Homo sapiens: one gene and its partner. The protein of the gene in region 1 purifies or fractionates together with the protein of each later gene. This does not show direct contact. Each region holds a gene or a part of one and is shown on either strand. Other genes may lie near its edges. The genes, in order: ZNF311 and NAXD.

Region 1 (4,325 bases):
TGATGAAGGAAAGTTTTTCTTTATAGAGGAGTTCTAACTAATAAATGTGAAAAAATTATTGAATTAGAAAAATTACAATTTTACAAACTCTAATGAAATGGGGTGGCTGAATCTATCAGATTAAAAGCCAGTGGGAAAGTTTACATGGAAGGATTCAGCTATCAAGTATTAAACCCACTGGTCAATCTTAGCATCAAAAACATTATATGCTTCCTGATGTGTGGCAAAAAGTACATAGCACCACCTAAGGATTCTTACTAACAAAGTTAAACCTAACTCTAATCAAACCTTTAGAGGTAACATCAAGTTTTACAGGAAATATGAGGCTAGAGAAACTAATAAAATGGGGACACAAATAGACAAAGCCAGCATGTAGAACATTCAGGACAAATGTCCCAATTTGTTCAATTAGTTGACTATATGAGGGGAAGACGAAGAGGAGGATGGAAGGAGGAACTAGTTCAGATGTGAATTTTAAAAGAATTAAGACACATGCCCAAATTAAATACTGGAACTTTAGATCTTGAATGAAATAGAAAACAAATGTAAGAAGCATATGTATATATTTAGGGAAATATAATATGGACTTGGTATTAGATGATAACCAGGAATTATTTTGTTAAATGGGATAATGGTATTGTGATTCTGTAGGAAAATATCCTTTTTAAAATAAATGCATAATGAAGTTGAAAGTAAGATATTTGGGGTTTGCTTTAAAACGTTTCAGCAAGAAAAAATGGAGATGGATGAAACAAGTGTGGCAGAATTTTATGTATTTTTAAATGTAAATGATGGGTATATATGGGTTAATTATACTCTTCTTTCGACTTCTGCATAGGCTTAAAATAGTCTTTACTTTTGAAAAAGACATTCAATTATTTGTGTTCTTAGTTAATATTTAAAAGTAACTTTTTCATATATTTGTCACAAAACTTCTGTCCATTCCTATCTAGAGGTTCCTCTACATGGGAAAAAAGGAGCAAAAGGGTAATATTTCTGCAACCCCTTTGCACAGGCCATAAACGCACGCAAACTCCTAGAAGGCTGAGCCGCGAGGAGGAGGGCGGAGAGTTTAAGGGAACGCCTAGACCAGAGAGTTGACGCCTTTCCTAGAAAATCACCGGAAATGATAATTGGCGGACTAGGAAGTGGAGCTTCTGTATATTTCTGTTTCTCATTTCTTGGGGAGAGTACCGGCGGGAAGGTCTGTGCCTTGGGCCGTCGTGGGTCGGAATTTGCAGCTGAGAGGAGAGGAGTCCGGTGCCGCCGTCGCCCCCCTCACCTAAATACCCGGGCCCCTGGGGTTGCAGGCAGGGGCGGGTCTTTGGGGCCAGATTTGAGGAGGGAGTCGGCTGCGGTTTCCTCCCTCGAAGCCATTCCCCAAAATGAGCATTTCCCGCCCATTTGCCCTACCTCCTCCCAGGGGCTCGTGACCCATTTTTTTTTTTTTTTTTTGAGACCGGAGTCTTGCTCTTGTCGCCTCCTGACCCATTCTTTTTATTCTTCTCTACAGCATCCATTCATATATTCATTCAGTCAGCTAATTTTTAATCCAGCACATACTATTGCAAGCGCTGTTTTAGGCGTTGAGAATACAACTGTGAACAAGACGACAAAAATTCCTGCCCTCATGGAGCCTAAGAGCCTAGATTTTAGCGAAGGTAGAACCACCGTAAACAATGTATATATTAATAAGTAACTTATGCACCATACTGGAAAATTATAAAGTGCTATAGAGGAAAAGAAGAATTCATGTAAAGCAAGGTAAGGCCCATCAGGATTGGAAGGAGGGGATAGGCTGCAATTTTAAATAAGGCACTCAGAGTAGACCTCCTTGGGAAGATGACCTATAAGAAAACACTTGAAGGAGGCAAGATTATTAGCCATGGAGATCGCTTAAGGTGAAGGGAGCAGCCAATGGAAAGGCCCTAAGATGAAAGAGAAGGAAGGTCGGTATGGCTGAAGATTGAGGGAGTGGGAGAAGAGTAGAAGGTGTTGAGAATGACACATCCTGTAGACTTGTATGCCACTCTTAAGACTTCAGCTCTTATTTTGGGTGAGCAGGAGAGGAAGTTAGAAGTCACGGGCACATTCAGTAGGGCCTTGTATACCTCGGTAAGGACTTCAGGTTTTATTTTAAGTATGAACCACTGGAGAGTTTTCAGCAGAGCGATGAAATGATCCAACTCAAGTTGTAAACGGACTACTCAGACTGCCCTATTAAGAAAGGAGGTGGAGCTTGCAGTGAGCCGAGATTGCGCCACTGCACTCCCGCCTGGGCCACAGAGCGAGACTCCGTCTCAAAAAAAAAAAAAAAAAAAAAAAAAAAGAAAGGAGGAAGGCAAGGATTGAAGAAAGGAGACCAGTTAGAAGACTACCGCAGTAATGGAAAGGAGGGGAGATAGCAGGTGATGGTGGCTCAGACAAGGGTGGTAGCCGTTGAGATTGTATTCTGGATATGTTCACATTTTCAGTTTGACTTCGTGCCTCAGGTTCTCAGTGACTCCCTATTTTTTCCTGTGGTCACATTCCTCTTTTCCCTTCACCAAATATGCAGGGAAACAAGATGTGAGATCACAGCGGTTTAGTGTTGCTAATGAACCCCAAATCCAGGGCAGTGTTTGACACATTAAGCCAAACAGTAGCGGCACTGTGGGTCAAGAAGGGCCCTTTGGCTGGCACCACCAAAACATGTGTTCTCCAAAGGAGGCTGGCATCAACTGGAGCCACTTCACAGCTTGTTTGAGAACTGGATCTGACCAGTAGGAAGAAACCAGGACAGCAGTGGAAGACTGTTAAAGAAACCTGAGTAAAAAGATGCAGGAGGTAAGAAGAGGAGGGTCTGTGATACATCACAAGGAGGAAGAAGGAGAAGTGAGTCCAAGAAAGAAGGAAAGCAGTGTGAGTGGAGGTGTGTCTGACTCTAGATACTGTTGGAGGTGTCTCCTCCTAGATACTGTTTTTGCTGCTTGACCTGGTGATCATTAAAGCTTTGTAGTTGTAGATGCCATTTCTAGTTTTCATAAGGTATTAGGAACTGAGTCCATTATTTTCTCCCTTCTTTTGGTATTTCTGGGAGACAGTTTCTGTGGATAGACCTGTATGGTTGCTTGCATCTTCCTATGTATTTTTCTCACCTTCATAACTTTCCTGAATTCATTCTGTGTCTTGCAATAGGTTGTGCTGTTGGATGAGAGTTCAGGACCACCAAGCCAGCTGCTTTGGACCCGCCAGGATACCCAGCTCCCTCAGGAAAGCGGTGAGATACACAGGAGATTGTGGCAGGAGTCACGGCAGCTGAGAATGTAGTAAGGACACAGAGTGGGTGGAAAATGCCACACTGGGGCCCAAAAATCTGTTCATTAATGAGCATTTATAGAAAGTCTTATTTTGTTTCTATACGAGGCTTGGATCAATATCTAGAGGAACTAAATATTCAGTTTCTGTCAGTATCTTAAATTTTGAAAAAAATCAGTGTGTAAAAGATTCTACAAAGCAATTTATCAGAAAGAATCAATGCAGTCAGGCATTTACTGTTTGTATAACCTGAGATATATGGTAAATAGCGTACATATTTGCACATATTTTACACTTATAAAACTTGTGGTATAATTCAGTAATTCCTACCCAAACATAATTTTGCCAACATGTAAAATTTGAATATATACAATTTTACTTCTGCAGACCTTTCTGGAGCCCTGATACTTTTAAATGATGTATAGATATCTCCAAAATATAAAATAAAGCAGTGACAAAAGAAGAAGCAAAAGTTTTCCCATTGAAGCCTTGTGCTCTTTGGTGGCGTATGTGAGGAGGAAAAGTGGTTAAGATTTGTATAAAAGCTGATGGTAGGCCGGGTGCGGTGACTTATGCCTGTAATCCTAGCACTTTGGGAGGCCTAAGTGGGTGGATCACTAGAGGTCAGGAGTTCATGACCAGCCTGGCCAATATGGTGAAACCCCATCTCTACTAAAAATACAAAAATTAGCCAGGTGTGGTGTAATGCACCTGTAACCCCAGTTACTCAGGAGGCTGAGGCAGAAGAATTGCTTGAACCCAGGAGGTGGAGGTTGCAGTGAGCTGAGATCATGCCACTGCACTCCAGCCTGGGCAACAGAGTGAGACTCTGTCTAAAAAAAAAAAAAAAAAAATTGCTGTTGGAGGTGCAACCTAGGAGATAGTATATAGCAATTCAGGAGTCATAAAATCAAACCCAGAAAGGCATAGACTTTTGGACAGAGGAGTAGGCACATTCAAAAGTAAGCTTTTTAGTATATGCTACCTGCAAAAAATAAAAATAAAATGTGTTTCTAGATATAGTGTTG
Region 2 (3,812 bases), on another chromosome or scaffold:
TGGTAGAGCCGAGTGGCCTGTTTTGTCAGGGCACTGATTGGTGTGTTTACAATCCCTGAGCTAGACACAAAGGTTCTCCACGTCCCCATCAGATTAGTTAGATACAGAGTTTCGACACACAGGTTCTCCAAGGCCCCACCAGAGCATCTAGATACAGAGTGTCGATAGGTGCACTCACAAACCCTGAGTTAGACACAGAGTGCTGATTGGTGTATTTACAAACCTTGAGCTAGATACAGAGTGCCGATTGGTGTATTTACAATCCCTGACCTAGACATAAAGGTTCTCCAAGGCCCCACCAGAGCAGCTAGATACAGAGTGTCGATTGGTGCATTCACAAACCCTGAGCTAAACACAGGGTGCTGATTGGTGCACTCACAAACCCTGAGCTAGACACAGGGTGCTGATTGGTGTGTTTACAATCCCTGAGCTAGATATAAAGACTCTCCACATCCCCACCAGACTCAGGAGCCCAGCTGGCTTCACCCAGTGGATCCCGCACCAGGGCTGCAGGTGGAGCTGCCTGCCAGTCCTGCGCCGTGCGTTCGCATTCCTCAGCCCTTGGGTGGTCGATGGGACTGGGTGCCGTGGAGCAGGGGGTGGTGCTCGTCGGGGAGGCTCGGGCCGCACAGGAGCCCATGGAGGGGGTGGGAGGCTCAGGCATGGCGGGCTGCAGGTCCCGAGCCCTGCCCGGCGGGAAGGCAGCTAAGGCCCGGTGAGAAATTGAGCACAGTGCCGGTGGGCTGGCACTGCTGCAGGACCCAGTACACCCTCTGCAGCCGCTGGCCCGGGTGCTAAGTCCCTCATTGCCCCGGGCCAGCAGGGCTGGCCGGCTGCTCCGAGTGCGGGGCCCGCCAAGCCCACGCCCACCCGGAACTCCAGCTGGCCCGCAAGCGCTGCAGGCAGCCCCAGTTCCCGCTCGCGCCTCTCCCTCCACACCTCCCTGCAAGCTGAGGGAGTGGGCTCCAGCCTTGGCCAGCCCAGAAAGGGGCTCCCACAGTGCAGTGGTGGGCTGAAGGGCTCCTCAAATGCCGCCAAAGTGGGAGCCCAGGCAGAGGAGGTGCTGAGAGCAAGCGAGGGCTCTGAGGACTGCCAGCATGCTGTCACCTCTCATTTTGTTTAATGTTTTCTATTTTAATGTTTTGTATTATCAGGTGTCTGTCAAGTCAGGATCACTTTACATGCTACTGCAGTGTATAATCTTGTCACAATGTATTGGCTCATAATAATAAAAACCACCAAATATTACATATATGTGTGTGTATCTATACATGTAGTTTTTTTTTTTTAATAGAAAACCTTTGAAACCTTCACTGTAATCCTATCAGGGAAAAATGATTCCCTGTTTATTATTGTTGTTATTTTAAAACGTGTAAGTAAAGTGATATGAAAAATACATAATGACTAATGATTTGGGGAATTCTCAGGAATTCAGATTTCCTGCCTCCGAATGCTGCGTATTAGTATCTGTTGGAGAACTGGATGCCCTTGCTGGGGCGGGGGCTGTCTTCATGGGTTAGCCTAGGAGCCCAGCTGTTGTTCATAGCGTTTCCAGTGGGCTTCGCCTTTCAGAGTTCCCAGTGTCCTGCCTTGTTTACGGGCTCTGCGAGTTCATTGGGTCTTTCTGCTTCTCTATTTTATTCATTTACTTGATTATTTTCCATTTATTGTTTGATGGCCTGATGTTGCATTTTATTAAGAGTCTGCTCAATTTTCTGTCACTCTTGGGAAAAGTGTCTTAGTCGGTTTTGCGCTGCTGTAGCCGTACCACAGACTGGGTAATTGATAATGAACAGGCGTTTACTGGCTCACAGTTCTGAAGGTGGATGTCCAACATCAAGGTGCCGGCATCTGGCGAGGGCAGAAGGGCAGGAGAGAGACCCTTATGCCTCTTTTAAAGGTCATTAAACCAACCCATGAGGACACTGCCACATCACCTTTTAAAGGCCCCACCTCCCAGGACCCTTCCCTTGGCAATTAAGTTTCACCATGAGTTTTGAGAAGACACATACCCACACCATAGCAGCAGGCATGGTGCTCAGTCTGGTTTTCTCTTCTGGCAGGGCATTTTGGAAGTGTCAAAGGCCAGGGACATCCCTGTTGTCATCGACGCGGTGAGTTGACTTCTCTCCTCCTGGCTCGGACTCCCGGAAGGCCTGTGCAGTGAGCACGGCTCCTTGTTCTGTGCAGGATGGCCTGTGGCTGGTCGCTCAGCAGCCGGCCCTCATCCATGGCTACCGGAAGGCTGTGCTCACTCCCAACCACGTGGAGTTCAGCAGACTGTATGACGCTGTGGTGAGTCAGTGGACCCCCTGGAGGGTAGATGCAAGCCCTGTTCGTCCTGAAGAGGGTGAAGGACGAGCTCCATGCTTCTGCCCAGCCTGTCCCTGTGGACACACCTGCAAGTAATCGCTGTGCCTCTCCCAGCGGATGGCGCGTCTTCCCATTAATGCGCTTGGATTGGATGAACGATGGTGTAGTGGGCTTGGGACAGGCAGGGACTCGGGTCAGTCAGCCCCTCCTGCAGTGCACTCTGGACAGGTCACTTTGTCTGTGTCCTGAGTGCCTCATCTGTAATGTGATGATGGCATCAGCTTCACGGGGTTGTGAGGATGAGATGAGGAAACCTATGTAAAGCCGTGAGTCCCCACATGGTAAGTGTCCCATCAATGTTAGTGCCCAGTACGACTGGAATTTGTATTACTCCTGCAAAGCTCTCAGAACCCAGTCTTGGGTGGTCCTCCTTCAGCCTGCTCTGATGAGGTAGAGGATGGGCACTGGAGCAGGCACCGTGTCAGCACCTGCTCGGAGGACTCACTGCAGGTGATATCCTGGGCATCCTCCCACCTACATGGCCTTTAACAGGTGCCTGGGTGATCCCTTTAGACACGAGAGCATGAGTCTCATGGCGGATGGGACAGGGCTATCTGTCGTCGTGTGTCTGAGGAAGACTTTGCTTTTTCTCTGTCTTCCTGTGTTGTCATAGCTCAGAGGCCCTATGGACAGCGATGACAGCCATGGATCTGTGCTAAGACTCAGCCAAGCCCTGGGCAACGTGACGGTGGTCCAGAAAGGAGAGCGCGACATCCTCTCCAACGGCCAGCAGGGTGAGTGGCGGCTGCCCTCTGTGCATGGGCCAGTGCCAGGTCAGTCAGCATGGCCACACCGAGCATGAGCCCTGGAAGACCTCTCCCGTGCACACCCGTGTTCACACACATTCACACAGGGATTCCTGATGAGCTCGTCAACCACACTTTCTTCAGAGTCCATGTTTTGACTTTTCACTGTTTTGCCAGGGGAGGTGACAGTGGTGAGGGCAGGCTTTCGAGCCGTGGGCCTTACCCGTTGGTTGAATTCCCTTGCCTCAGTTATGAGAAGCAGTCTGGCGGGAGGGTGCCTGCAACAGCAGGGCACAGTGCAGGGTCCCGCGTCTCCAGCTGCCACCTTCATCTCACCTGTGGCATCCACCATCCATGCAGTTATTTGGGTATTTTATTGCATTTCATTCTCTTTTATCAAAATGACTGGAAAGTGCAGAAAGCCCCGAAGCTGATGCTGGTAGTGGAATCTCAGGCACTGAGTGTGGCGAGTCTCAACTGGCCACTCCCACGGAGCCTGGGGAGGCTTCAGCAAGAGCCAAGTGAGAGCAGGGCAGAGGCCGGGCCCAGCGCCAGCGAGGCATCTGGGGAGCCGTGCCCTTGTTAGCGCTGAAAATGGAAGCCCCTCCATTCAGGCCTGGACAGATGATGGGCAGCGAATGTGCTCACCTGCTGAGCTGTGGGGCTGGACTAGGTACCAAAATCAGGGTAGAA

What was found.
Region 2: the proteins of ZNF311 (region 1) and NAXD purify together in Homo sapiens (affinity purification with mass spectrometry; one large-scale study listed by BioGRID and IntAct). This does not show direct contact.

Annotation. Positions count from the first base shown.
Region 1 is NC_000006.12:29,002,447-29,006,771, reverse strand, and holds the start of ZNF311 (zinc finger protein 311), read left to right. Parts: upstream 1-1,456; 5' UTR 1,457-1,764; exon of another isoform or gene 1,765-2,232; intron 2,233-2,337; exon of another isoform or gene 2,338-2,557; 5' UTR 2,558-2,817; coding exon 2,818-2,826; coding exon of another isoform or gene 2,827-2,901; exon of another isoform or gene 2,902-2,911; intron 2,912-3,177; coding exon 3,178-3,259; intron 3,260-4,325. UniProt on the Homo sapiens protein: May be involved in transcriptional regulation.
Region 2 is NC_000013.11:110,632,482-110,636,293, forward strand, and holds part of NAXD (ATP-dependent (S)-NAD(P)H-hydrate dehydratase), read left to right. Parts: intron 1-2,063; coding exon 2,064-2,114; intron 2,115-2,190; coding exon 2,191-2,295; intron 2,296-2,986; coding exon 2,987-3,107; intron 3,108-3,812. UniProt on the Homo sapiens protein: Catalyzes the dehydration of the S-form of NAD(P)HX at the expense of ATP, which is converted to ADP.